Regions from separate parts of the Homo sapiens genome. Here regions 1, 2, 3, 4, 5 and 6 are each reported to be linked to region 7. Evidence: microRNA targets listed by miRTarBase, many of them from high-throughput screens and not tested one by one. Region 7 holds a microRNA gene; each other region holds the end of a gene's coding sequence. Distances are between the middles of the regions.

The links. The annotated mature microRNA hsa-miR-454-3p reads UAGUGCAAUAUUGCUUAUAGGGU and lies in region 7 at 817-839, shown strand. An mRNA with a match to its seed (bases 2 to 7 or 8) in the 3' UTR can be bound and repressed. Matches are read on the target gene's strand: a 7mer-m8 pairs with bases 2 to 8, a 7mer-A1 pairs with bases 2 to 7 and ends in A, and an 8mer does both.
Region 1: miRTarBase lists UQCRB as a target of hsa-miR-454-3p. Seed matches in the 3' UTR shown: 7mer-A1 at 4,198-4,204.
Region 2: the mRNA of ZBTB7B is a reported target of hsa-miR-454-3p. Seed matches in the 3' UTR shown: 8mer at 1,101-1,108.
Region 3: the mRNA of FZD6 is a reported target of hsa-miR-454-3p. Seed matches in the 3' UTR shown: 7mer-m8 at 272-278.
Region 4: miRTarBase lists WDR31 as a target of hsa-miR-454-3p. Seed matches in the 3' UTR shown: 7mer-m8 at 572-578 and 7mer-m8 at 172-178.
Region 5: miRTarBase lists SLC46A1 as a target of hsa-miR-454-3p. The part of its 3' UTR that is shown has no 7-base or 8-base seed match.
Region 6: miRTarBase lists PPP1R7 as a target of hsa-miR-454-3p. The part of its 3' UTR that is shown has no 7-base or 8-base seed match.

The regions. Positions count from the first base shown.
Region 1 is chr8:96,227,986-96,232,303 of GRCh38, reverse strand. UQCRB (ubiquinol-cytochrome c reductase binding protein) reads left to right here. Exons shown (of 4, transcript NM_006294.5): 3 at 364-530; 4 at 1,172-4,318. The coding sequence ends at 1,249. Among named protein-coding and RNA genes, the nearest start is that of UQCRB-AS1, 5.1 kb to the left of the region's middle.
Region 2 is chr1:155,014,973-155,019,166 of GRCh38, reverse strand. It overlaps ZBTB7B (zinc finger and BTB domain containing 7B), which reads right to left. Exons shown (of 3, transcript NM_001256455.2): 2 at 3,353-4,194; 3 at 644-2,947. The coding sequence ends at 2,482. DCST2 (DC-STAMP domain containing 2) reads left to right here. Exons shown (of 15, transcript NM_144622.3): 15 at 407-640. The coding sequence ends at 623. Among named protein-coding and RNA genes, the nearest start is that of ZBTB7B, 14 kb to the right of the region's middle. RefSeq lists a cis regulatory region at 1,820, a silencer at 1,382-1,851 and an enhancer at 1,748-1,892.
Region 3 is chr8:103,331,332-103,335,405 of GRCh38, forward strand. It overlaps FZD6 (frizzled class receptor 6), which reads left to right. Exons shown (of 7, transcript NM_003506.4): 7 at 10-1,535. The coding sequence ends at 178. Among named protein-coding and RNA genes, the nearest start is that of SNORD173, 24 kb to the left of the region's middle.
Region 4 is chr9:113,314,094-113,317,093 of GRCh38, forward strand. WDR31 (WD repeat domain 31) reads right to left here. Exons shown (of 11, transcript NM_001012361.4): 11 at 1-2,816. The coding sequence ends at 2,656. Among named protein-coding and RNA genes, the nearest start is that of RNF183, 12 kb to the left of the region's middle.
Region 5 is chr17:28,396,553-28,400,870 of GRCh38, reverse strand. SLC46A1 (solute carrier family 46 member 1) reads left to right here. Exons shown (of 5, transcript NM_080669.6): 4 at 105-261; 5 at 1,158-4,318. The coding sequence ends at 1,215. SARM1 (sterile alpha and TIR motif containing 1) reads right to left here. Exons shown (of 9, transcript NM_015077.4): 9 at 1-4,318. Among named protein-coding and RNA genes, the nearest start is that of SLC46A1, 7.5 kb to the left of the region's middle. RefSeq lists enhancers at 2,286-2,375, 3,140-3,823.
Region 6 is chr2:241,181,572-241,185,889 of GRCh38, forward strand. It overlaps PPP1R7 (protein phosphatase 1 regulatory subunit 7), which reads left to right. Exons shown (of 10, transcript NM_002712.3): 10 at 1,076-2,081. The coding sequence ends at 1,252. The region is part of intron 2 of LOC105373971 (a long non-coding RNA gene); the gene reads right to left. Among named protein-coding and RNA genes, the nearest start is that of ANO7, 4.9 kb to the right of the region's middle.
Region 7 is chr17:59,135,626-59,138,625 of GRCh38, reverse strand. MIR454 (microRNA 454) reads left to right here and starts at 754; the gene lies at 754-868. The region is part of intron 1 of SKA2 (spindle and kinetochore associated complex subunit 2); the gene reads left to right.

The sequences.
Region 1 (4,318 bases), not on the chromosome of region 7:
TGTGGTTTATTAATGTGTGTTTAAAAACAAAGTAAACATTTAAAATATTTTGTAAATGGTTTAGATAAAATATGAATTTTGTGGCATTGGATTTTAAGAGGCTCATATATTGTTTCCATAGTCTAGTTCAAGAAGTAACCCATTATATCAAGTAATAACTCATTACTTTTAATGGCAAAACTGCAATTACTTTTGCACCAACCTATAATGTATGAAATGCATTGAATTTCCATTGAACCTAGTGATTTGAATTCGATAGTTCACCAAAAGTTGTAAGTTATAAGTCATAAAGGTATTTTACTAATTTAAAAAAACCGCGATTTTTGAGATGCATGTGCAATCTAACTTTGTCATCTATCATAGGGTTAATGCGAGATGATACAATATACGAGGATGAAGATGTAAAAGAAGCCATAAGAAGACTTCCTGAGAACCTTTATAATGACAGGATGTTTCGCATTAAGAGGGCACTGGACCTGAACTTGAAGCATCAGATCTTGCCTAAAGAGCAGTGGACCAAATATGAAGAGGTAGCACAGCTTTATCTACCTGACAGTGTTGCTCATTAAGGATGGAGTTTTAGAAACAAGAGAAACATGTTCATTTGCATAGTGTTAGAGTTCTCTGAGTCATGTCAAATAAATATGTGAGGTTAATAAAGCAAATGTTATTTCCGTTTTAGAAGAAAACCACATTGAGTCTTACGTGTGAAATGATTCTTCTGAAATTACTAAGCAAGTCTCTAATATAGAGAGCCAGGACTAAAATCCAGGTCTGTTGCCTCCCAGGTCTTTGCTGTTCCAGCTCTGCACTCTGCTTCCTACTTAGATGAAAAGATCAGCCCATTGAGTGTCCCTCCAGATCCCAAGAAGAGCTTCTGTGAAGCAAACTCTCACCCCTTGAACTGCATTGAAACTAGGCAAAGGCCTGTGGACATTCATTTCTTTTTCTTCCCGAAAAGACTTCCCCCTCATAACCTATCAAAGCAACTTATCACACCATCACCACAGATTTGACATTTTAAAAAGCAGATAGTTCTTAGGTTGAGAATATGTTTTCTAAAATTGGAAATTCAAAAGTAATTGCTTTTTTCTTGTTATTGAAGACCTGTTGAGTGTTTGGGATATATCAGTACGTGATGGTAACATATAATATTTCATTCATTCTTTAGGAAAATTTCTACCTTGAACCGTATCTGAAAGAGGTTATTCGGGAAAGAAAAGAAAGAGAAGAATGGGCAAAGAAGTAATCATGTAGTTGAAGTCTGTGGATGCAGCTGTTATGAAGATGGTTAAACTTGAAACAAACAATTTTAAGAATTATTTGGTCTGAAGATGTTTTACTTTAAATAAATGTCTATTGTAATGGCTGGAGTTTTTGAATTCCAAACCTTATACTGAATAACTACTGAATCCCTTTACTGTTAAATTTTTTTCCAAACTTTCAAGATATATTTAGTTGTGTTTAACTGCTACTTGGAGCTCAGAAGCCACTTTATCAGTTTTCCTCACTGGTTGGATAGCCTATCAGTTTATGGAAGGATATAACTTCCGTAAGTTACATCCTTATGGAAGCTACTGAATAAAAGAAGGGGGTATGCACCCCCTAGTTTGCCAAGATTGAGAAATAGCCTCTTCACTGGTATGCAAACAGATTTGATTTTGCATCCTATCATTTAAAAAGAAATTATGTCTGCACCCCAACATAGGCATACTTAAGTAATATACATACTCCTGTGCTAACATGTATACTAGAAAACAAAAAGATGTTAGAAAAATAAAAGTATAAAGACAAATCATACTGTCCCCATATCCCAGTGACTTTTCCACTTTGGAAATGATTGTTATGAAGTTTAAGGGTTGGATACTAGTCAGTTAAAAGTTTTAAGATTATAGGGTAATTTTTAAAAATATAAATTAGAATCATTGGCAAGGCATGGTGGCTCATGCCTGTAATCCCAGCACTTTGGGAGGCCGAGGCGGGCGGGTCACCTGAAGTCAGGAATTTGAGACCAGCCTGGCCAACATGGTGAAACCCTGTCTCTACTAAAAATACAAAAAATTAGCTAGGCGTGATGGTAGGCACCTGTAATCCCAGCTACTCGGGAGGCTGAGGGAGGAGAATTGCTTGACCCCAGGAGGTGGAGGTTGCAGTGAGCCTAGATCACACCACTGCACTTCAGCCTGAGCGACATTGACTGTCTCAAAAAAAAAATTAGGATTATTCAATGTTGTCATCATTTCCACTCCTAAATTCTGAAATGCTTTCTTTGGTAGAGGTGAGAGTGTGGAGCCACAGCTAGTAGAGAAGGAACAGTAGGACCTGCAGCCTCCCTGGTTTTCCAGGACAAGTCATTGCTGTGTGTGGCAGGAATGCCTTACCTCAAATAACAAAACAGTGTGAAAAACGAATTTGTGTTACATTTAAAGTTTGTAAAGCAATGAGAAATGTGTGTATCATAAAGAGCATCTTTAAATTTTTGCTAAAATATTAGCCTCTTAAATTCTCTAGGAACCCCCTCCCCCGCTTTTTTTTTTCCTTTCGCTGGTCGTTATTTTTCTAAACCTATCCTGAAATCATGTCAATTTTCTTTTGTATGGTTGAAGACAACTAGATCACTTGATAATGGTTTTGCTCAGGTCACATTGTGACAAGGTTTTAATGTAGTCCTACTTTGCAGAAGGAGGCCAAGAAGATGGGCTGTCTAGAACCCCCTTTAAAAGCATTTGTCTATTCAGAAAATTTTCCTGAGTAGATCTCTGCAAAGGCTCTTTTAATAGTGATTTCAAGATCACGTTTGCAGGACTCTGGTCTATTCGTTCAGACGTCTACTGTGCACAATTACAAGGAGACTACAACTGAGGCATCTCAAAGAGCACTGTCAAGGTGTGTAGGGAGCCGGGTGGGTGGAGGGAGGCTGGGCTCTGACCCTAGAAACCATGCTTATGAATGCTGTTAATGTTTAAAGCAAGCCTAAGGGCACTGCTGAAGGACAGGGGAACAAATAGAACTGACCAAGACTGAGGTATAACAGGAACCCCCAGGCTATCCACCTGCTCAAGGTAAAGTGTGGTATTACATAAGGCAACCTCTGATTTTGTAAGAGTTCTTCCTAAAGCCAAAGTGTATGCCTATTCTATGTTTCCAGATTACTTCATTCTTCTAAATGAGAACAAGTGTGCAAAAGTTCTTTGAACACTAGATCAATGTTTTGTGTTCATTATAAATTATGGTTATCGTCCTGCTTGTTATGAAGACTAAGAAAGTAGATCTAGTATTTGGCTCACACAGGTGAATGGGTGAGAATTTGTTAATCCATCAGTGAAGTCCTTTCATTTGAAAGAGAGGGCCTTTCTATTATCAAAAGCCGTCCTGTGTGGAAAATCACCATGAGAGTGCCTGAAACACAGGCACTCTGCATTGTCCTGTAGACCAAATCTACATTGTCCTGTAGTCTGGTCTACATTGTCCTGTAGACCGAATGGTAGAGTGATTCAGAGCTAATTCTGGGTTAGACTGCACAGGTCTGAATCTATTTGCTCACTGTGTAGTGCTTTAGGAATACAATTTAACCTCTCCGTGCTTCAGTTTGTTTGTCCCTAAGATAGAGCTAATGATAGAAACCTACTTCACCCAGTTGTGAAAATTAACTGACTGCATGTCAAGCACTAACAGTTTCTGGCATATAGTATGCATAATGTAAATTATGTGCTGAGAAGCGAGAAAGAATAACTTGGGAAAACGCTGAATATCATCAATGTCGAATAGCTAACCAGTAGCTAAGGTCCAAGGTCTCCTCTCTTCCTTCTATGTGGCACTCTTGTTTCTGGTTCATCTACTCCCCTTGGGTGTCACCTCCTTGAGTGAAGTACCTGCTGGAGATGAGAAGAGTGGAACTGGATCTGCATGACAGCTTTGATTAGGATGGAGCTAAGACTTGGCTATCTCCCTGTTTTGTGTTTTGGATGGGTGACATTTTAAAACTGCCAATATTCAAATCCTGCTAATTTGCTTTGTACAGTTTAAAATGTTTGATATCTTTTGTTGTTTAAAGTTTGAGATTGGTTTTGAATATACAGTTTTCCTACATCTTGAAGAAAGTTATGTTTGTTTACTCTGAAGTGGTCTATGTTCTGTTTGTTTGTTTTACTATACTTTGCAAAAAAACAGATGGCTGGCTTATGTTCACTGTTGTAGTGCACTACCTAGTATCACTTGGCCTTCCTGTTGTCAAGATGTAGGAAGCAGCGTAAGGGATGTCGGGCCTTCAGACCCCCAATTGCCAGCTGTGGTCCTAGTTCCAGATTGCATGGAAATA
Region 2 (4,194 bases), not on the chromosome of region 7:
CACATTCCAGTGTGAATGGGGCGGTAGAGGTCATGATGAGTCAAGAGGTTGAAGGGGAAGCAAAGCTTTCTTTTCAGAGGTTCTAGAGGGCCCAGTGAAAGGATAAGCTGGGTCAGCAGAGGGGACAGCTTGAGCCTTGAGCAGGTGTGACTACTGAGGTCACTAGTGATTCTGCCCTTCCTAGCCATGTGGCCTCAGGCAAGTCACTGCCCACCCCCCAGCATCAGCCTAAAATCAGAAAATATCTACAGCCATGGGCTGGTACGCCTCGTGGGCCTGAGAGAGCAGGAGTTGCTCAGAAAGAACAGGAGCTGGATCTGAACAGATGGGGCAGGGCAGGGGGCAGGGATGCACCTGTGAAGACAGAAGGTGGGTGATCCGGCCACCCCCTTCCTCTCCTCACTAGTGACCTGGATGAGGAGAAGGGGCCTCAGCAGAGGAAGCACGGGCAGCAGCCCTTACCTGAAGCCCATCAGCCTGTCAGCATTCTCACCAGCCCTGAGCCCCACAGACCACCTGAGACATCCTCCGCCACTAAAGGAGCCCCCACTCCAGCTTCAGAACCCTCAGTCCCTCTCTCACCTCCCTCTCTTCCTGATCCTTCCCACCCACCCCCCAAATAAACCAAAAGTGGACACAAGTGTGAATCTTAAATTATTATTATTTCTTCCTGTCGCTTACACCCGAGGTGGGGGAGTTGGGGTGGGGGGAAGGGAATAGGAGGGGGGGAGTGCCTCTCCCCCTAAGGCACTGACTGGGAAAGCCGAAAGTAGGGAGAAGGGAGGCCACATTGTCCCCACTTTCTGGGGCTGGGCCCCAGGTCTCCCCAGCCCTGGGCTCCCCCCATCACCTGAAATGCTAAGATGAGGCCCAGGACAACCCGATCTCCCCGCCACCCCAATATATTACATCATCACTTTTTAAATAGATAACAGGGACTGGTCCCGCTACCCCCTCCCTGTGACCCCTCCCCACTGTTAGGGGTACCTGGGCAGCTGTGCAAATGGGCATGGGGGTGCATGGAAGGGAGGAAGAGCACCGGGCCCCTGAACCTGCCCCTTTTAAGGAGGGGGAGGAGCCGTCAGGCCAGGAAGGGGAAATAGTGCAAGGCAGAGCCCAGGCTGCAAAAGGGGTCCAGCACCCAGCGAGGAAGGGGGGGTGTCCCCCACCCCCAGCAGAATTGGGTAGTTAAAAATCTGAAACTAGATTTCAACAAGACCAACAGAAGAGGCTATGTACAGAATGGGGGTGGATTCAATCCTAAGAGCAGAGTGGGGATTATTCTCCCCTGCCTGACAGGAAGCCCGGCTGGCAAGGATCTGGGAAGGGGATCACTTTCCCACAGGTCCGCAGCCCCTTCCCCTGCGGCCAAGCGAGAAGTTCTGTGCCCACTGCCTTGGCAAGGGGGCGCCGCTCACCAGCTGGGGTGGATGAGGAGCGTGAAGACAGCTCGCTCCAGTGGCCGCGGGGGGCGCTCGCCCACTCAGAGCATGGCCGCCAGATGGCGCCGGCTCGCCCGCTCTCCACAAGGCTCTTCCAACCCCTTACCCTGTCCCACACCCTTCGCTGCGCCAGCCCGGGGGCGGCGTGAGTCAGGGGCGGCAGCGGTGGCGGCGGCTCCGGCTCGCACCTGGGCGGGGAGGAGATGGGGAGGAGGAGAAGAGGGTAGGACGCCGCCCGGCCCGCCCTGCCCTCTGGCCCCGGGGAGGGAGCGGCGGGAACAAGACATTCCCTGCCCAGGGCCGTGGGGAGGGAGGGCTAGGGAGGGGAGTGGAACGGAGCGGCTCCCCTAGCTGGGCGGGGCCCCTCTACTGCCCCCAGGGGCAGGCGAGCCAATCAGGCCACCCCGCCCCCTTCTCCACGACCCCATGACTCAGCGCCGGGAGCAGGGCGGAGGGGGACTGGGATGGCTCCTTCCTTACAGGCCCAGTCCCCCAGTCTTTCAAGCTTCCACCTGGCTTTCCCCCACCTACCCTTCCTTTGCCGGCCCCCTTTGCATAATTCACTGCCAGGAAAAAGGAACAGAAACCAGGAAGGAGGGGTCTCGAAAGGGAGGGGCAGTCCTTCACCCCCTTACACAGCCAAAACCCCCAAGGGGCATAGGGGCGGGGCAAGGCTTTGGTCCCAAGCCCCCACCCCCTAGAAACCCGCATAGCCGAAGTGGGACCCACAAATTAGAAATACATTATTGCTTCTACTCCCCAGGAGCAGCTGGGGACAGGGACCCCACTTTTACAATACAGCTGTAAATATATACACAATATATGTATCACTCCTTGGGGGATCACCCCAATTTGGGGAGCCTCTGCCCCAATACCTTCTTAGCTTGGAATTGGAATGAGGGCTCTGGGAGGAAGGGCTGATGCTGATGCCAGCAAGGCTCCGTGCCCCAGACCCCTGCTGTGTCTGTCCTGCGTGCTCCCACTGCTTGGCATGGGTGTCCCCGGCCTTGTGCTGCTTCAGTCTGGCCCTCGTCCCTCTTTAAGAGGACTCCATGGCACCTTCAGCCTGGGGTGTGGTGGGTGCCCCTTCCTCCTCATCGTCATCAGGGGGCCCTGGGGTAGAGACCGGGGGCCCAGTGGGGGCTGACTGCTCCCAGAATCGAGCTAGAGAGAGGCGGAAGGTGTCCAGGTGGCCATTGGAGAGGTCGAGGCCAGCGGGGGATGCAGCAGCGGTAGAGGGTGGTGGGTAGTGGGGTGGTGCATCGTCCTTGCGGCGCCGTCGGGTGCGCACCTCCAGGCAGTTCTGGCCTTTGAGGTGGCGCTGCAGGTGGTCCTCCTTGGCGAAAGCCTTGTGGCACAGGTGGCACTCATAGGGCCGGTCCCCTGTGTGCAGGTGCATGTGGTTCTTGAGGTCGTAGCTGTGCAGGAAGCGGGCTGGGCAGTGCGGGCATGAGTAGGGGCGCTCTCCCGTGTGCTTCCGCATGTGGATCTTCAGCTTGTCGTTCCTGGCACAGGCAGGGGTGAGGGGCAGGGAGGTGTTCAGGATGGGATCCCTGGCTCCTCCTGGTCATCCCACCCTGGCCTTGTCCCATCCCTGTTCCTCACCATTTGTTACCCCACTATTGCCCCAGGAGATACCCTGCTAGCTCACCTCTAGCTTAACTAGGCCTTGTCATTATCCACTCCTCTGCTTCCAGCACTGCCCTCCTGGGCACCGAATCCTCCATGCTCCAGATCCACCCCCTGCTGGCTTGTTTTCTTCTGCTCTCCTCACTCCAGTAACCCACCCATGCCCCAGTCCCTCCAGGACCACCTACCACCACCTCGGGTCTCCTAACTTCTTCCCCATCTCCTCCCACCCTGTCCCCTACCCATGGCCCCTGCCGGGCCCTTCCCCCCTTGCTGCTCACCTGGTGAATCGAACACCGCAGACCTCGCAGGCAAAGGGCTTCTCGCCTGTGTGGGTCCTCATGTGGCGAGGCAGTTTGCCTGCCCCATGGATGATCTTGTGGCAGACAGGGCACTCCTGAGGCATCTGGGAGCGGCGTTTGCGCACCAGCTTGTCTTGGCTGTCCAGGCCTGGTGCCAGGTTGTCCTGGTGCAGGGAGCTTAGGTAGGCCATCAGGTCAGGATCGATGGCATCCTCATCTGAGCCCAGCTCCTCTGGGGACAGCGGGGGCCCGCCACCCTGCGCCAGCCCATAGGCTGGGGGATATACCAGCTCCTCTTCTTCTTCCTCACCCTCATAGGGTTCGTAGCTCTGGGGACCCTCAGGAGGGGAGGCAGTTCCTGTGGGAGGGCTGTAGCTGTCCCCCGGCCCACTGCCCCCACTGCTGCCCACTCTGCCCGCCACCTCCTCCTCCTCATAGGTCAAGGGATGGGCGGGCACTGTGGGCACCTCAGGGACTAGGTGGTTTGCTCTGGCCCCCTTGGTTTGCAGGAAAGCTTTCCGGGGCTTGCGGCTGCGGCGGGCAACAGGCCGAGGTGGCGGTGGCGGAGGTGGTGGGAGGGGCACCTGTGGAGGACTGTCTTCACCATTGGGAACTCCAGAGGCCGTGGCTGTGGCAAAGGCCTCCAGATACTGGCGGGCTCGCTCACAGTCATCCTCGTCCGGGCTGGGAGCTTCTAGCCCACTGCCCTGCAGAATCTCCATGCAAGCAGCGATGACACACGGGATCTCCAGCAGGCGGGCAGCCTGGAGCACAGCTGGCATGTTGGCGCTGCTGGTGGTCAGTGTGGCTGTATAGGCAAA
Region 3 (4,074 bases), not on the chromosome of region 7:
TTTATCTAGGATTAGTCCAAAGAGTGATATTACTGACACTGGCCTGGCACAGAGCAACAATTTGCAGGTCCCCAGTTCTTCAGAACCAAGCAGCCTCAAAGGTTCCACATCTCTGCTTGTTCACCCGGTTTCAGGAGTGAGAAAAGAGCAGGGAGGTGGTTGTCATTCAGATACTTGAAGAACATTTTCTCTCGTTACTCAGAAGCAAATTTGTGTTACACTGGAAGTGACCTATGCACTGTTTTGTAAGAATCACTGTTACATTCTTCTTTTGCACTTAAAGTTGCATTGCCTACTGTTATACTGGAAAAAATAGAGTTCAAGAATAATATGACTCATTTCACACAAAGGTTAATGACAACAATATACCTGAAAACAGAAAATGTGCAGGTTAATAATATTTTTTTAATAGTGTGGGAGGACAGAGTTAGAGGAATCTTCCTTTTCTATTTATGAAGATTCTACTCTTGGTAAGAGTATTTTAAGATGTACTATGCTATTTTACTTTTTTGATATAAAATCAAGATATTTCTTTGCTGAAGTATTTAAATCTTATCCTTGTATCTTTTTATACATATTTGAAAATAAGCTTATATGTATTTGAACTTTTTTGAAATCCTATTCAAGTATTTTTATCATGCTATTGTGATATTTTAGCACTTTGGTAGCTTTTACACTGAATTTCTAAGAAAATTGTAAAATAGTCTTCTTTTATACTGTAAAAAAAGATATACCAAAAAGTCTTATAATAGGAATTTAACTTTAAAAACCCACTTATTGATACCTTACCATCTAAAATGTGTGATTTTTATAGTCTCGTTTTAGGAATTTCACAGATCTAAATTATGTAACTGAAATAAGGTGCTTACTCAAAGAGTGTCCACTATTGATTGTATTATGCTGCTCACTGATCCTTCTGCATATTTAAAATAAAATGTCCTAAAGGGTTAGTAGACAAAATGTTAGTCTTTTGTATATTAGGCCAAGTGCAATTGACTTCCCTTTTTTAATGTTTCATGACCACCCATTGATTGTATTATAACCACTTACAGTTGCTTATATTTTTTGTTTTAACTTTTGTTTTTTAACATTTAGAATATTACATTTTGTATTATACAGTACCTTTCTCAGACATTTTGTAGAATTCATTTCGGCAGCTCACTAGGATTTTGCTGAACATTAAAAAGTGTGATAGCGATATTAGTGCCAATCAAATGGAAAAAAGGTAGTTTTAATAAACAAGACACAACGTTTTTATACAACATACTTTAAAATATTAAGGAGTTTTCTTAATTTTGTTTCCTATTAAGTATTATTCTTTGGGCAAGATTTTCTGATGCTTTTGATTTTCTCTCAATTTAGCATTTGCTTTTGGTTTTTTTCTCTATTTAGCATTCTGTTAAGGCACAAAAACTATGTACTGTATGGGAAATGTTGTAAATATTACCTTTTCCACATTTTAAACAGACAACTTTGAATACAAAAACTTTGTTTTGTGTGATCTTTTCATTAATAAAATTATCTTTGTATAAGAATTATGGAGTATTCTGTGGTTAGGTATAGTAGTTCTGGCCAAGGAAGTAGTATAATTTTTTAGATTAGTGACTCCATGGCTGGTAAGTCAGAGGCTTCTTTTTAACCTTGAAGGAGAATGCAGTCAAGATTCTTGCTTTTTGTCACTATTTCTTTCCAAAAATGTAAATTATAAAGCTATATTAACTGTAACTTTTTAAAGCCAGTGGGAAAGATCTGGAGTGTGAGGGGTGAAGCAAAAGGAACCCAGGACCCAGTTTTCACTCCTAACAGTGTATTAGGTGATACAGACAAACCTCCCAAAACAGAAGGCTAGAATATGTGGATGAAATAAAACAATAGGCAGATTTCTGTGATGGGGGAAAAAAAGAAATAAAATAATATTAACCCCAAACATTAAAAAACTAATAAGATAGTGAGGAATTGCCAGGTTAAGATCTGGGAGAAGAGAGAAATTCTCACTACAAAGCCCAACATTTGGAGCTGTTTTGCCCAGGAGCACTTGATGACTTGGAAAGGGCAGCTGAGAAGTGGAACAGTGCTATTGACAGCCTCAAAGGGCTGGAAGACAAGGGGTCTGCAACCACCCTACATTTAGAATTGTGACCTCAGAGGGTTGGATCTTAAAAGTACATGTGAGTTGTACATAAAGCAGCCCTGCTTCAAGTTGTCTGGGTAGATAGAAAAAGTTCAAACCCTGAAATTAGATTAAGGTAGCTCAAGCACCAGGTAAATGAAAATCTTCTCTGGAGGAAGAAAATGTTATTTTATATACTCTAAAAGTACCACAGTGCTCATCATACAATCAAACAATCAGGTATGCAAAAAAGACCATTTTTTGTTCATTAAAACATGAACAAGAATTGGCACAAGCAAGAGAAAAAGATCCCCAGGTACTGCTGATGTATTACTAGATACACATCATGTAACTTAAAAGTACAAGCAAGGAAAACAATAAGATACTACACACCTATAAGAATGGACAGCACATAGTGACTTCCTTCCAAAGAATCCAAAGTACAGGTGGTACAGGGAGAGTAGCATTTACAGTGGAGAAACCTGACAAACTCAGCGAGAGGTACCTCACTACTCAGAAGGCGATCAAAGTCAAAAGAGAGGTAAGTCATGTTGAGAGTGTTACCTTTCATATGATGTGATGAAAATTGCAGTTTACCTCTGATATTCCCAAAACCTATAACCTCACTCTAGTTGTGAAATATGAGATGAATCTCAGCAGATGGACATTTTACAAGATAGCTGACCAGTCCTCCTCAAAAGGAGTCAAAATCCTCAAGAACAAGGGAAGTTTGAGAAACTATCACAGCCAAGAGGAGCTGAAGGAGACATGACAACTAAATGTAATGTGGTATCTTGGAAAAGAAAAAAGCACATTAGATAAAAACTAAGGAAATTTGAATAAAGCTTAGTCATCCAAATCAGCTAAATGTTCTTTATAATTTTCTTCCTTCTGCTTGCTTTTTCTCACCTTTTAGTCAGATATTGGACTCCTGGATGGATCCTTTAATTTTCTCATCTTTCCTCTCCTTTTGCCAATCTCTTTGGATTTTTTTCTTTGAAACTTTATCAAATGTATTTTTTAATTTTTGATTGAAGTTTTTTTGGCTATCATTTTTTAATTTCACAGCATTTTAAAAATTTTGTTCTTTTTTCATAGTACCTTTTTGTTTTATGATTATTTTATATATAATGTATTTCAAGATACACAATTTACTTTTTAAAGATCATATAGGAAACATTAATTTGTAATATTTATTTTGTAGCAGATGACTTTATTAAAGTCCCTCAATCCCTCTAATAATTTTGCAGTTGATTTTTCCTGGATTTTCTAGGTGGATGATTTTTTCCTCTCAAATAATGGTAATTTTATTCCTCAGCTATTAGCTGGAACTTGTAGCCAGTTAACATTAATAGTAGTAGCAGTAGACATCCTCGTCTTGTTTCTTTATTTTAAAGAAAATGCCTGTAGTACTTCATCATGAAGAACAATGTTGGCATTTGACATAAGATAGGTATTTCTTAATGAGTTAAAAGAATCCTATTCCATCTTATAAGTTTTTAAAAATGAGGAATATGTACTGAATTTTATCAAATGCCCTTTTGCTACCAGGATTAGTCAGTATGAGGCTAACTTCTGTAACAATCCTCAAAATCGCAGTAGCTTTAGAAACTTATTCATGCGACAGGTGTGAATGTTCTTGAGGTAGCCTTCCAAATTCAAGCAACCACCACTTCCATCTTGTGGCTCTGCCATCTCCCACTGAGTAAGAGAGAGAGTAAATGACTGCACAGAAAAAAGCTTCATGAGCTAGAGTTGAAAGTGATATGCAGGCCGGGCGCAGTGGCTCACGCCTGAAATCCCAGCACTTTGGGAGGCGGAGGCGGGCGGATCACGAGGTCAGGAGATCGAGATCATCCTGGCTAACACGGTGAAACCCCGTCTCTACTAAAAATACAAAAAATTAGCCGGGCGTGGTGGCGGGCGCCTGTAGTCCCAGCTACTCAGGAGGCTGAGGCAGGAGA
Region 4 (3,000 bases), not on the chromosome of region 7:
AGCTTGCAGCGAGCCGAGATTGCACCACTGCACTCCAGCCTGGGCGACAGAGCAAGATTCCATCTCAAAAAAAAAAAAAAAAAAAAGGATCAAGGAATGGTAAACGTTTATTTTATTTTATTTTATTTTATTTTATTTTGAGATAGAGTCTCTCTCTGTTGCCTAGGCTGGAGTGCAATGGCACAATCTCAGCTCACTGCAACCTCTGCCTCCCCGGTTGAAGCGATTCTCCTGCCTCAGCCTCCTGAGTAGCTGGGACTACAGGCGGGCACCACCACACCCAGCTAATTTTTGTATTTTTAGTAGAGACGGGGTTTCACCATATTGGCCAGGATGGTCTCGATCTCTTGACCTTGTGATCTGCCCGCCTAGGCCTCACAAAGTGCTGGGATTACAGGCATGAGCCAACGCGTCCGGCAGAATGGTAAATGTTTAATATGGAAAAGGGAACATTTAGTCTGGACAGAGAGGACAATAAATAATTATGGCTACCATTTGTCACCACCTTTCCTGGCATTTACTTATTTATTTATTTATTGAGATGGAGTTTCGCTCTTGTTGCCCAGGCTGGAGTGCAATGGCACAATCTCGGCTCACCGCAACCTCCGCCTCCTGGGTTCAAGCGATTCTCCCGCCTCAGGCTCCCCAGGTAGCTGGGATTACAGGCATGCACCACCACGCCTGGCTAATTTTTGTATTTTTAGTAGAGACGGGGTTTCTCCATGTTGGTCAGGCTGGTCTCAAACTCCTGACCTCAGGTGATCCTCCTGCCTCGGCCTCCCAAAGTGCTGGGATTACAGGTTTGAGCCACTGCGCCTGGCCTTTCCTGGCATTTAAAATAGCTATGTCCAGTCTTCAGAACAGCCCTGTGGCGAGGTATGATCATGAAACCCACGTTATAAAGTGAAGAGGAAACAGATTTTATAACTTGCCCAAGATCATCCAGCTAAATGGAGAAGTGGAGATTCAAAGTCGGGTCTGACTCTTTGTACTAGCTTAAGAACAGACTCTCAGCTGGATGTGGTGGCTCATACCTGTAATCTCAACACTTAAGGAGGCCGAGGCAGATGGATCACTTGAGCCCAGGAGTTTTAGACCACACAAACACACAAAAAATTAGCCAGGTGTGGTGGTGCATGCCTGCAGTCCCAGCTACTCAGGAGGCTAAGGAGGGAGGATTGATTGAGCCCTGGTGATTGAGGCTGCAGTTAGCCATGATCACACCAAGAGAGGGAAGAAGGAAGGTGGCTGTCAGTCACTGGTATCAGAGACAAGCAGAGGACAGAGAAGACAAATGCAAAATCTTTCTTTGGCTGGGACTTGTCAGAAAGGGAATCTCCAGTGTTGGTGATGGTGTCACCAACAGCCTCATGTGCCTTATGTGTGGGCATCTCTGAAGGCAGAAAGAACTCCATTTTCCCTGGAGGAAAATGGACCAGTGAGCATGAGGCTGAGGTCTGACTCCTGGGGGCCACACAGGCAGGCCTGAGCACCTTGCCCCTCCTCACTGAAGGGGGCTTAATGTCTGGGGCACAGTTGACTCCATCCCTCTCTTTTTTCCTGTATGTGGTTTTTTGTTTTTTTTTTTTTCAAGACAAGGTCTCATTCTGTCACACAGACTGGAGTGCAGTGGCACAATCTCAGCTCACTGCAAACTCTGCCTCCCAGGTTCAAGTGATTCTCCCATCTCAGCCTCCCGAGTAGCTGGGACTACAGGCACGCACGTACAGGCTGGTCTTGAACTCCTGACCTAAAGTGATCTGCCTGCCTCGTTTTTCCTGTATGTTCTAATGTTATTTCAGGGATCCCCTTTGCCTCACTCTGGCCATTCCAAAACATATATATGTTTCATTTATATAAATCCAAATGAAAATATTAAAATTGCAAGTGAGATATTTTTGGCCTTAATCTTTGAATTTCAATGTTTTCTTATCTGTAGAGCTGGTGTGCTAACTCCTGTAATTCTGGGCAATGCCCATGTGGTTCTTGGCTGCTTCAAGCCATCTCAGGTCTGATTTTCACACAAGCTCAGCAGCACTGGGCTAGAAGGGTACCGCCCTCCCACTCTGCTGCCACTTTGAATAGAAGTCCAAGCTTTCGCTTTCTTGCCCTGACTTTGATTCTTCACATTGCTGAGGAGCAGTGATTGAAGCTTAATCTCATTGTCTACAGTCCGTCTCCTCTATGGAGCTGCACTATTCTTTCCCATCTCAATTATTTCTGATGTAACCAAAACACTCTCTCTCCCCACTGCCTTTTTTCTTTTGTAAAGACTTGCAAAGGGTCAGTTCCAGAGGCTCGAGCCCTGTGTTCTGACTTTCACAGACAGAGGCCTGCCACTCTTACATTTACAGGTCATCATTCTGAGCAATACACTTTTTTTGAAGAGTAGTCCTAAAAGCTCACTAAAAAGTTGCATTTGTATTTAACTTAAATAGAGAACCTTATGTGTAGTCCATGTTTCTGGACTCTATACCTGATTTTGAATCACTGGACTTAAATTATTGGACTTACAACACTGATACATCTTGTAAATGAACCTAAGCAAAGAATACCAGCCCTACATCCCACTCCCCTCAAGATAACTGGGAAAGACACAAAGCCATGCTGAGGAGGAGCCATGGTTTGATATTGTCCAGTGAGTGTCTCTTGGCCTCAGAATGCTGCCACTTCCTGCAGTTCCAGCCCTTGGCTGTGGTCCATTCTGAGTAAGTGAATTCCTCTGTTAAAACTTGCACACAATAAGGAGATGGCGTCACCAACAGCCAGAGAAGTCAAGGGTCCTGATCCATCCAGAGACAAGGTGAAAAGGCAGGCTGGGGGGGAAAGGGGGACCAGCAGATTAGGCCAAGAGTGTAGCATCATGAAATGTGATGTCTTCATGAGAAATGCAAGGAAATAAAGCATTTGCTGTACATATCTAACCCGTATGAGAGAGACCCCACTTCTTCAGAGGAAAGCATACCAGGGAGGTCAGAACTTGGGCCAACTCCATGACTT
Region 5 (4,318 bases), 31 Mb from region 7:
ATAGGTTAAGTGACTACTCCCGGTCACACAGCTGTGAGGTGGTGGTGCCAGAGTTGGAATATGGCCCTTTCGGACTCCAGAGTATGGTATTTATTTCTTCACAGGTGCTCTCTTTTCTGCTGTGGCCTGTGTGAATAGCCTGGCCATGCTGACGGCCTCCGGCATCTTCAACTCACTCTACCCAGCCACTCTGAACTTTATGAAGGGGTTCCCCTTCCTCCTGGGAGCTGGCCTCCTGCTCATCCCGGCTGTTCTGATTGGGTAATGCAGGGCCCTGAACCCATGCTCATAATGGAGCCCTTTCTCTTAAAAGTTTCCTCTTCTCCTCCCAACCAGAAATGGCAGCTTCATTCCTGGAATCCTTACCCTCTGGGTGTCTTGTCCCAGGTTGCCCCTCTCCTTGCAGATGGCTGCCTAATCCTCCAGGAGCCATTTTCCAAGGGCGAGATGGCGAGCTAGGTGGAGGAAGGATCAGGCTAACATTGCTGCTTGGCAAGGCTGTGTTCTCTCTCCCAGTTCCCCTATTTCCCTCCATTCCCATTTTATAGATGGAACTATGGCAGCAGAACTGTGTTAAAGGGAAGGCCAGGAAGCTTTGTCAGCTAGTTGTGGCTGGGCCACAGGCTAGCTTGACCCGCTGACTTTTTCCTGTATGATATTAAGAATTATATTTCATGGCCGGGCGTGGAGGCTCTTGCCTGTAATCCCGATCCTGTGGGAGGCTGAGGCAGGAGGACCACTTGAGCCCGGGAATTCAAGATCAGCCTGGGCAACATAGCAAGACCTTGTCTGTATAAAAAATTTAAAAAATCACCCAGGCATGGTGGTATGCACTGGTAGTCCCAGCTACTAAGGAGGCTGAGGCAGGAGGATCACTTGAGCCCAGGAGTTCAAGGGTACAGTGAGCTATGATTATGTCACTGCCCTCCAGCCTGGACAACAGAGCAAGACCCTGTCTCTTAAAAAAAAAAAAGTTATTTTCCAGAGCCATGTCCCTGGATATTGTCCTCCAGCTCTCAGCTTCTCAGCTTGGGGAAGGAGGAGGTTCAGGAGAGCTACCTGGACCAGCCCACCCCAGTAAATCCTGTGTCACTTCTCCAGACAGGCCTTGAGGGTTCCCCACATGAAATCCAAACTCTCTCTCTGGTCTCTCACAGGATGCTGGAAAAGGCTGATCCTCACCTCGAGTTCCAGCAGTTTCCCCAGAGCCCCTGATCTGCCTGGACCAGAAGACAGAGGGCAAGAGGAGCAAAGTGAACACCAAGCAACTGGAGGTCTGCAGCTGGAAGCCCAGCCCACAGCAGGACAAGCAACTCTTGTCTAAGGGCAGTGCTCTCTTTGGACGAGGTAGTCAAGAGAGACCAAGGCACCACCCCATCCACAGCTGACCCAGCCTCTGTCTAGGATCTAGAATCATAACCCACACAGGCCCACTGCAGGACAGGTGGCAGAGGAGCTATTTGGGACAGGAGTCAGTTCTCCCTTTCTGCTATCCATCACTTATAACCCCACAGGCCAGAGGAGAGGTCCTGAGAGAGGTGACACTTCAGGGACCAGAGGCAGCACGAGGGCTGGCATCTCTCCTTCCAGCCCAAACTGCACAGCCCCAACCAGGTTCCCAACACGTGTAGCAGTCATCAGCCATTCCTTAACAATGAATGTGGTACCTGGTTAGTGCCAGCCTTGGGAAGGAGGGAGGGAGGTAAGAGGGGCTTGGTGATCTCTGGAGGAAGAGTGTTGCCTTTGCTGTGGTTGGGGAATCGATCCTTGGCTATGGCCTACCCACTCCCCTGGCTGAAGAGTGCCAATCATTACAAATCAGCTTCAGCAAACTGAAACAAACCTTCTGGTGCCTTGGGCTTTGGGGCCCTCTGTTTTCCTGCTCCCAGTCTGCCTGCCATACGTTAGACAACAGAAGCTGCTGGGCTGGGCAGGAGCCCTGAGCTGCCTGGTGGATTGGTACCAAGTGGGGCCAGCCAGGGCTTCTACTGACTCGCTGTGCAACCTTGAGCAAGCCCCACTAGGAACGGCTAGATCAGCAATGCCCCAAATTGTTGAATCGTGGTGATCACATTTGGATGGACAAGTTAGGAAACTTAGCTGATTCTCTGAGATACTTCCCACTTCCTCATACATTCTACAATGAGATGCCTCTCTTCATGGGCCTGGGGAAAGGATGAATGAGTGTGGCTGGACTTTTGACCTTTAATGTCCCTGAGCAGTTCTTGGCCCTTGGGGAGAAGTAGGGGGAGGATCTGGCTGACTCAGCCCCAACCGAGGGGTAGCAGCTGCAGCCCAGCCAAGCAGAACACCCTGGCCCTACAGACCTGTGTCTGAGCAGGCTTTGGAGGAAAGGCCACTTCTGAGTCCTCTGTCTCAGGAGAAGCCAGGCCTAGGTGCTTGACCTGGTGATCTGAGCTGTGTTTGTCCTAGTATGGGTGGCAGTCACCTCTGAACACACTGGCCTTGGCTTAGAGGAGGCTTGTGACTTCAGCTGTTCCAGCTGGGGCTGGATGCTGGACTCTGATTCCCTCAGAGAGACAGAAGATCGGGCAGAGGTCAACCAGAAGGCCACACAGGGCAGTGGACAACAGTGGAGGGTATACCAAATAGAAATAAAACGCAGGAAACCTCTCTGAATACTGCCCTTGGGGACCTCAGGAGGGAGTGGGACTGATTGGAGACAAAGAGCCAGAAATCATCCCCTGGAGATACTCAGACACTGTATTGTTATTGGCGCTGTCCTGTGAGGGCAGTGTCCAGGCTGCCCTGCTTGTCATATCCATGCCCTGGCTCTGGCCCCGGTGAGCACTTGTGCTGCATGAGGAAAGGAGGATCAGGTGGGGTCAAAACCAAAGCATCGAGGCTGGCACTGGCCAAGACAGACTCTGGCAGGGAGGGGAGTGGAAGGAAGGAGCCCCAAACCTGGAGTGAGACCTTTGACTTTCTGATGATGTGGCCAAGAACTAGGAGTCACCTGGCCAGCACAGCCAAGAGTGGGGCTGGGGGCGCAGCCAGCTTTAAGGTGTCAACACCTGGCCCTTGCGGGGAAAGAGCCTTCAGCAGCCCCCACGGCCTGGAGCCTGGGTTTATTGGAGGGTGCTTTCTTACCCTCTGAACCCAGTGGAGGAGGGGGCAATGGGATATTCCTGCTCTGTATGGCCTCTGGGTCAGCTTTTTGTTGCAAAATCCTATCCCCCGCTGCTAGATTCTTTGAAGCAAGGGAGAAGCAATAGCCCAGCCTCAGAATGATTCTCAGGAAAGCAATTCCACTGCCAGTGGACTGGGTGCCAGGAGGCCTAGGTCTGGATCTGGGGCTGCCACTAATGACAGGAAAGTGGGCTTATCCTCAACCTTTCTGAGCCTCAGTGTCATTATCTGTAAAATGGGGATGATAATACCAGGTAGAGTTGCTCTGATGACTGGAGACCATGGAGCGGAGTGTTTGGGAAATGGCAAAGATTTGTGAGGGCTTCGTGCTTTAGAGATTTGCTACCCTTAACCACCAGCATCAGCTCACCTGGGAATCTGTAAGAAATGCAGAGTCCTAGGCCCCACCCCAGATCTCCTGATTTTAACAACATTCCCAGGTGACTTGGATGCATGTTAAAGTTGGAGAAGCTGCCCTAAGTGACAACCCTTTGCCTTTTCAGGACTTTGCCTCTTTCCACAGAGCTGCAGGTTCTGTCTAGGCTGCTTTTACTGCCATGGGGGCTGCCTGGTCCCTGAGTAAGCAGTGGGTAGCCCTGGATGGCTGAGGGGCTGGGGAAGCCAGCTGGGCCAGACCAGGAAGGAGCCTGAGGCACAGCACCAAGGCATGGGGTAGGGTGGGCTTTGAGGCACGGCCTCCCCATGCCCAGACCCAGGCCCAAACAGGAGGCTCCTGTGCACCAGCAAGTGCAGCAAAGCTGGCTGCAGTGACAAGGAAGTCAGAGGGAGGGCTGGTTTGCCTCAACCCTCGCCCTGGATGTGGCAAAAGATACCACACCGAAGGAAGCTGTAGGGGATCTGGGACTTAGTCAGGCTAGCTAAGGGCACTGAGTGATTACAGGGCAAGGCCACAGAGCGGCAGGAAGTTGTAAGTGCAGGGGCCAGGCACAGTCTGAGTGGAGAGCCATGATGGCACTCATCCCTGGCTGGCTCCTGGGCCCAGGCCCTTGCTCAGAATACAGTGCCCAGGCCCGCCTGGGCATTGCCTTAATTCCTGTCTGAGGCTGCCTTCCGTCATCCTCCTCAAGCTGACTGCTATCAGCAGGAGAAGGGAATGCAGAACCACCCCCACCCCAACTCCAGTGTCTCCAGAACTGAGCAGGGACCC
Region 6 (4,318 bases), not on the chromosome of region 7:
GCAGAGCAGAGGTCCAGAAGTCCATGCAGGGACCCCCCAGTCGGACCACAGCTGTGGGCAGGGCAGTGGGCAGTGTGGGCCCCAGAGTAGAACGCCCCTGCTTGCCTTCCGTTCCACATGGACAGTTCCCTTCCTAACTTCCCTGTAAAAGGAGTCGAAGTCTGTCACCCTATAACGAGTGCCCCTGCCTGTGCCCATTGTAGGTTCACAGTCAAGTCCAGCTGCCTCTTCAGGAGCAGTGCCCGTGCTCTTGCCACCGCGGTTTGCCTGGCAGGCCCTGAGGCCGGGCAGCTCTGAACATGTGATTTCTACACACAGGGTGTTTGAAAGGGAGGGTCAGACCAACAGGGTTTGAAGCTGGACTGGCTCCCCTTGTTCTGGAGATGGCACCACTGCACTCCAGCCTGGGCGACAGAGCGAGACTCTGTCTCAAAAAAAAAAAAAATGCAAGAGAACTCTTCCTGCCAAAGGCAGGTCCCTCCAACTGGGCATGGCAGGGCCAAGATGGTAAAATGTAGCCTGCAACTCAGACCTCTGAATCCCACCTGCTCACGATTTGTGTCCCTGCACTTGGTATTGGGTGAAAGCAGCAGCTGGGACTTCCTTGTGGAGAGAGCCATAGAGGTAATTTACAGAAGAGTTGAGAGTTTTAAGTAGAGCGGCCTCTGTCTGCTGTGTCACAGTGATGGCGCAGAGTGCAGCCTTGGGAATGATGGCTGAGAACTGGTTTGTAGAAAGTGCAGCCCACCCTGCTTTGACACTTGCCTATGGACAAGTGTAGCAGGCAGGTGGCCAGAACTGCTTTGTCCTTCCTCTGCTGACCTGAATGTGGACTTGGCCCCGTCATAGTGACTGGCCCAGGGTTGGCTATGGACAGGTAACTTGTACTTGGGATGCAGCTGAAGGTGGCCAGGATGCACCAAGAGGCCATGGAAGGTCCCATGAGGTGCCAGGGAAGACCCACACCTGCTCGCCATCTTCTGAGTGGGAAGGAGGAGGGTGGCTAGTGGACCCCACCAGAGTCGAGGGCTGGGCTGTTTGGTTCTAAAGGCTTTTCTGCTGTGTGTGTCCCCAGATGAACGACAATCTCCTTGAGAGCTGGAGCGACCTCGACGAGCTGAAGGGAGCCAGGAGCCTGGAGACAGTGTACCTGGAGCGGAACCCCTTGCAGAAGGACCCCCAGTACCGGCGGAAGGTCATGCTCGCCCTCCCCTCCGTGCGGCAGATCGATGCCACGTTCGTCAGGTTCTGAGTCCTTCTTGGCTCCTCATGTGGTCCCTCTCCTCGGAAGAACTGCCCAGCCACGGGTTTTTAACCCACCTGTTGCTCCTGAGGTCGTCACTATATCAACAGTCACAAACCCAATGGCAATAAAGGCACTGACGATAGCTGGCGCGCGCGACGTCACACACCATTTTCAGATGCCGTTGCAATTAAATCTTGCCACACTGTCCTCCTGGGTGATTGTTGACAGTTATTGTAGCCACAGAGAGAACATAAGACACGTTGCGTTCATTCGCTAGAAATCCCTGTTTCCTTCTCTCAGAAGGCAGTCACAGTCCCTACCTGAGTCGTGTGAAACACAGGGCCTGAGAGTGCTTTACAGGCATTCACGTGCTGTCCGAGTGGCATTCGGGGGCTGGCCTAGCTGGCCCTAGTCCTGGTGTGCAGGGTTCAGGCAGTCTTGACCTGCAACAACCGAGGTTTTTTAGTCTTTTAACCCAGCCATTTTCAATTTTTTAAAAATTAGGTAAGTTAAAAAAGCTGGGTAAAAGCTGACTCAGCCCTGTGTGCTTGTGTTCCTTAGAGCTCTCCTTCAAAGAGCGCCGGGCAGGGCTGACTGTTTTCACGTGTGCCCGTCAGTTCTCGCCACATCCCTTGCCTGTGGGTGAAAGCTCAGGTGTGGGGAGGGTGTCCTGTGTCCCACACGGTGCTGTGCTGCTGCCAGAATACGAGTCCCATTGAGCCTCTCCAAAGACGGCCTCCAAGGATCTGAACTCTTGGCCACTGGTATAGTGGCCTCCTGTTCTCACCCCATTGTTATTTTGGCTTTTTTAATATAAAATGTACATTGACAGACACCCGAAGTCTGGATTTAATGCTACCAGGGCATCGTCACCTCCCAGGGTCTCAGATTTCTCCTCCTGCAGAATGAGGGCCACATCATGTGGTCACCAAGGTCCCTTCTGCCTCCGGGACTCTAGACTCTAGAACCGTCTACTTGAGGAACCAGGACTCTAGAACCGTACTGTCCAATGTGGGCGAGGCTGCAGTGAGCCATGATTGTACCCACTCCAGCCTGGGTGACAGAGGGAGACCCTGTCTCAAGTTTTAAAAGGCTCCAAATTAATACCCAGCCATCTGTTCTTTAACAGACATTTTTACAAACATACAAAAAATGTGGAAGTGATGAGGAAAGGTATGCTAAATCCAGCACAATCCTAATCAAAATGCCATTTGATTTTTTTTTTTTTTAAGGAGTCATTCTCTGTCACCCAGGCTGGAGTGCAATGGCGCAATCTCAGCTCACTGCAGCCACCACCTCCCAGGTTCAAGCGATTCTCCTGCCTCACCCTCCCTAGTAGCTGGGATTACAGGCACCCGCCACCACACCCAGCTGATTTTTGTATTTTTAGTAGAGATGGGGTTTTGCCATGTTGCCGGGCTGGTCCCAAACTCCTGACCTCAGGTGATTCGCCCACCTCAGCCTCCCAAAATGCCGGAATTACAGGGGTGAGCCACCGCACCCAGCCACCATTTGATTTTTTGAGACACATTAAATTCTAAAATTTAATTTTTTTTCCTTTTTTTTCTGAGACAGAGTCTCGCTCTGTCGCTAGGCTGGAGTGCAGTGGCGCGATCTGTGCTCACTGCAAACTCCGCGTCCCGGGCTCAAGCGATTCTCCCGCCTCAGCCTCCTGAGTAGGTAGGACTACAGGCACATGCCACCACACCCAGCTAATTTTTATATTTTTAGAAGAGACGGGGTTTCACCATGTTGGCCAGGATGGTCTTGATCTCTTGACCTCATGATCCACCTGCCTCTGCCTCCCAAAGTGCTGGGATTACAGGAGTGAGCCACCGTGCCCGGCTTTTTCTTTTTCCTTTTTTGGCGAACAGGGTCTTGCTATATTGCCCAGGCAAGTCTCAAACTCCTAGGCTCAAGCTGTCCTCCCACCTCTGCCTTCCTAAAAGCTGGGATTATAGGCATGAGCTACCGTGCCCGACAAATTCTAAAATGTATATGGAAGAAAAAAGTCAACATTGTGATTCAATTCATTTTGAAAAAGAGCTGGGAGAGACGCTTTCCTACCAGATCCTGAGTGCTGCAAACCCACAGTGAGAGTGTGGGGGGAGGCCTGACCTAACAGCACCAAGACAGGGACACCTCAGCAGGAACCCAGGGGACTCGGGGACTGGGAAAAGTGTCCGGGGGTCGGGGAGGGGTGGACAGTGTCCTCATGATGTTGGCAGAGTGCACTATGTGGAAAAATGAACACTGCCCCTCCCTGGCATCACACACAGGATAGGCTCCAGAGCAATTGGTGATTCATGGGCGGTGGTGAAATAGGAAATCAGTAGAAAATAATGTGGGAGACTGGGCATGGTGGCTCGTGCCTGTAATCGTAGCACTTTCGGAGGTCAAGGCGAGTGGATTGCTTGACCTCAGGAGTTCAAAACCAGCCTGGGTAACACGGTGAAAACCCATCTCTACTTTAAAAAAACACAAAACTTAGCCGGGCGTGGTGGCAGCCACCTGTAGTCCCAGCTACTCGGGAGGCTAAGGTGGCAGAATCGCTTGAACCCGGGAGGCAGAGGTTGCAGTGAACTGAGATCTCGCCACTAGCACTCCAGCCTGGGCGACAGAGTGAGACCCTGTCTCACACCCCCAAAAAAGAAAAAAGAATGTGGGAAGGCGGATATGTGAGCTAGCAGTAGAGAAAACTCCCCAAGGCCGGGTGCGGTGGCTCATGCCTGTAATCCCAGCACTTTGGGAGGCCGAGGTGGGCAGATCACAAGGTCAGGAGTTCGAGACCAGCCTGGCCAACATAGTGAAACCCCGTCTCTACTAAAAATACAAAAAATTAGCCGGGCATGGTGGCAGGCACCTGTAATCCCAGCTACTCGAGGAGGCTGAAGCAAGAGAATTGCTTGAACCCAGGAGGTGGAGGTTGCAGTGAGCTGAGATTGCGCCATTGCACCCCAGCCTGGCCAACAGAGCAAGACTCTATCTCGAAAAAAAAACTCCACAAACACAACTGTAAGACAAGATTTTGATGGGTTTATTTACATAAAATTTTACATAGAACAAAAATAA
Region 7 (3,000 bases):
ACCCCATCTCTACCAAAAATACAAAAAATTTACTAGGCGTTGTGGCGTGTGCCTGTAGTCCCAGCTAGTCGGGAGGCTGAGGCATGAGAATTGCTTGAGCCTGGAGGCAGAGGTTGCAGTGAGCTGAGATTGCGCCACTGCCCTCCAGCCTAGGCAACAGAGTGAGACGCTGTCTCAAAAAATAACAAACAAACAAAACAACTGGTTGAGCATCCCTAATCCAAAATTCCAAAATCTGAAATGCTCCAAAATCCAAAATTCATTGGACCATTTCAGATTTTGAATTTTCAGATTAGGGATGCTCAACCAGTAATTATTATGCAAATATTCCAAAATAGGAGGAAAAAATCAGAAATCTAACTGGCAGAATGTAACCTGGTTTCCCTTGGGGTGCTTTCATGATGATTTCCATAGACTTTTTTCACCTAATTTTGTATTTTATATACCACTTTTCAGATCAGTATAAAACTTTTCCCCTTTATTTTTATTACTGATTTTAGAGAAAACTGGTTTCTGAAATACGAATATCTTGGGCTTTACAAAAATCACTAGTTTTATTTTAAATATTCCATTGCCCCTAAAAAGTTAAACAATAACCTCACTGATTTCCAAGGCTTCCAGGAGGCTGATTTGTAACTGAAAGGGCTGTGAATGATGTTTATCAGAATCAAATTTGCGCGATTTATCAGACACTAATGAGTTTTAGATTATCATAATTGCTTAGTGAATTTCTGCCATCTAACTAAAAAAAATTCTGTTTATCACCAGATCCTAGAACCCTATCAATATTGTCTCTGCTGTGTAAATAGTTCTGAGTAGTGCAATATTGCTTATAGGGTTTTGGTGTTTGGAAAGAACAATGGGCAGGCTGCAGAAAGTATGTAGCAGAAACAAGCAAAAGTCATCTTTAGGAAGAAAACAAGGAACTAGATTTCACTATAAACATTAAAATCTGAGGCTTAAATGTAAATTTTTAATTTATTAGAAGAAGGTAACTTTTCTTTTTGACAAATGGGTTTATTTGTAGTATAAAGAAATAATGGAATTTTAGTATTGAAAAGGATCTTAGATTCCAACTCATTTGATAGGAGAGACCCAAAGAAATGAGGGACTTAACCTAGGGACACATAGCTGGTTAGTGATACTAGGACTAGAATTTCTACCATGTATCCGAATTCTTTTATTTTTCTGTACCATACTACCATGTTGTGTTCAGAGGGAATTTTTAGTTGACTAGCTTTGTAACTTTAGTGATATTAATTTAAAACATAAAAAAACTTTAATTTTAGGTGAAGAATGTACATTTTTGGATGGGTGTGGTGGCTGACACCTGTAGTTCCAGCACTTTGAGAGGCTAAGGCGGGAAGATTGTTTGAGCTCAGGAGTTCAAGTCCAGCCTGGGTAACATAGCGAGACCTTGTCTCTACAAAAAAATACAAAAATTAGCTGGGTTTGGTAGTGCACGTCTGTAGTCCCAGCTACTCAGGAGGCTTAGGCAGGAGAATCAAATCTCTTGAGTCCAGGAGGTTGAGGCTGCAGTGAGCTGTGATTTGTGCCACTGCACTCGCCTGGGCAACAAAGCAAGACCCTGTCTCAAAAAGAAAAAAAAGAATTTACATTTTTTCCACATGTGTGACTCTTAATGGCTTAAATATCATCTATAACTTTGTCTAACTACATAAGAAAACAGTAATGGAAATAGAACTAGAGGCAAGTTACTTTGCTATTTTCTCATTTATAAAATGAAGGGTTCAGAGCAGACATTTAAGATGATTTTTCGGCTGGGCGTGGTAGCTCACACCTGTAATCCCAGCATTTTTGGAGGCCGAGGAGGGCGGATCACAAGGTCAGGAGATCAAGACGAGCCTGGCCAACATGGTGAAACCCTGTCTGTACTAAAAATACAAAACTTAGCTGGGTATGGTGGTGCACGCCTATAGTCCCATCCGCTCGGGAGGATGAGGCAGGAGAATCGCTTGAACCCGGGAAGTGGAGGTTGCAGTCAGCCAAGATTGTGCCACTGCACTCCAGCCTGGCAACAGAGTGAGACTCCGTCTCAAACAAAAAAAAAAAAGCTTATTTTTCTATCTTTCAACATTTTGGCATCCTTTTTGCCCCCTGCTTATTCCCTAGCCCACTGACTTCACTAATAAGCCAGTACTGGCCAGGCACAGTGGTTCACACCTGTAATCCTAGTACTTTGGGAGGCCGAGGTGGGTGGATCACCTGAGGTCAGGAGTTCGAGACCAGCCTGCCCAACATGGTGATACCCCGTCTCTACTAAAAATACAAAAAATGAGCCAGGCATGGTGGCAGGCGCCTGTAATCCCAGCTACTTGGGAGGCTGAGGCAGGAGAATCTCTTGAACCTGGGAGGTAGAGGTTGCAGTGAGCCCCGAGATCGCGCCACTGCACTCCAGCCTGGGTGACAAGAGCGAAACTCGGTCTAAATAATAATAATAAGTCAGTACTGCCCCTGTGTGTTATTAGACGTTCTATACAATTTTCCACAGAGGATAACATTCTACCCACAAGCTGTTTTTTTTTTCTTCCTTCCTCCCTTCCTTTTGGAGATGGGGTCTCACTATATTGCCCAGGCTGGAGTGCAGTGACTAGTCACAGGAGAGATTATAATACACTGCAGCCTTGAACTCCTGGGCTCAAGCAATCCTCCTGCCTCAGCTCTTTAAGTAACTGGGACTACAAGTACACATCAAATCTAGCAGAAGCTGTTTTTCTTGTCTTTTTAAAAAAATATTTTAAAAATTATTTTATATTTTTTAAAAATATATTTTTTAAAATATAAAATTAAATATGCAATATAAAATTTTAAAATATATATTTAAAAATTATTTTATATATTTTAAAAATATATTTTTTAAATATATTTTTTCAGGATGGGTGTGGTAGAAAATATTTTTTTCAGCCACCGTGTCCGGCTAATTTATATAATTTAATTTGTAATGATGCCTATGTTTAATAATTGTCTTGCAAAAAATCT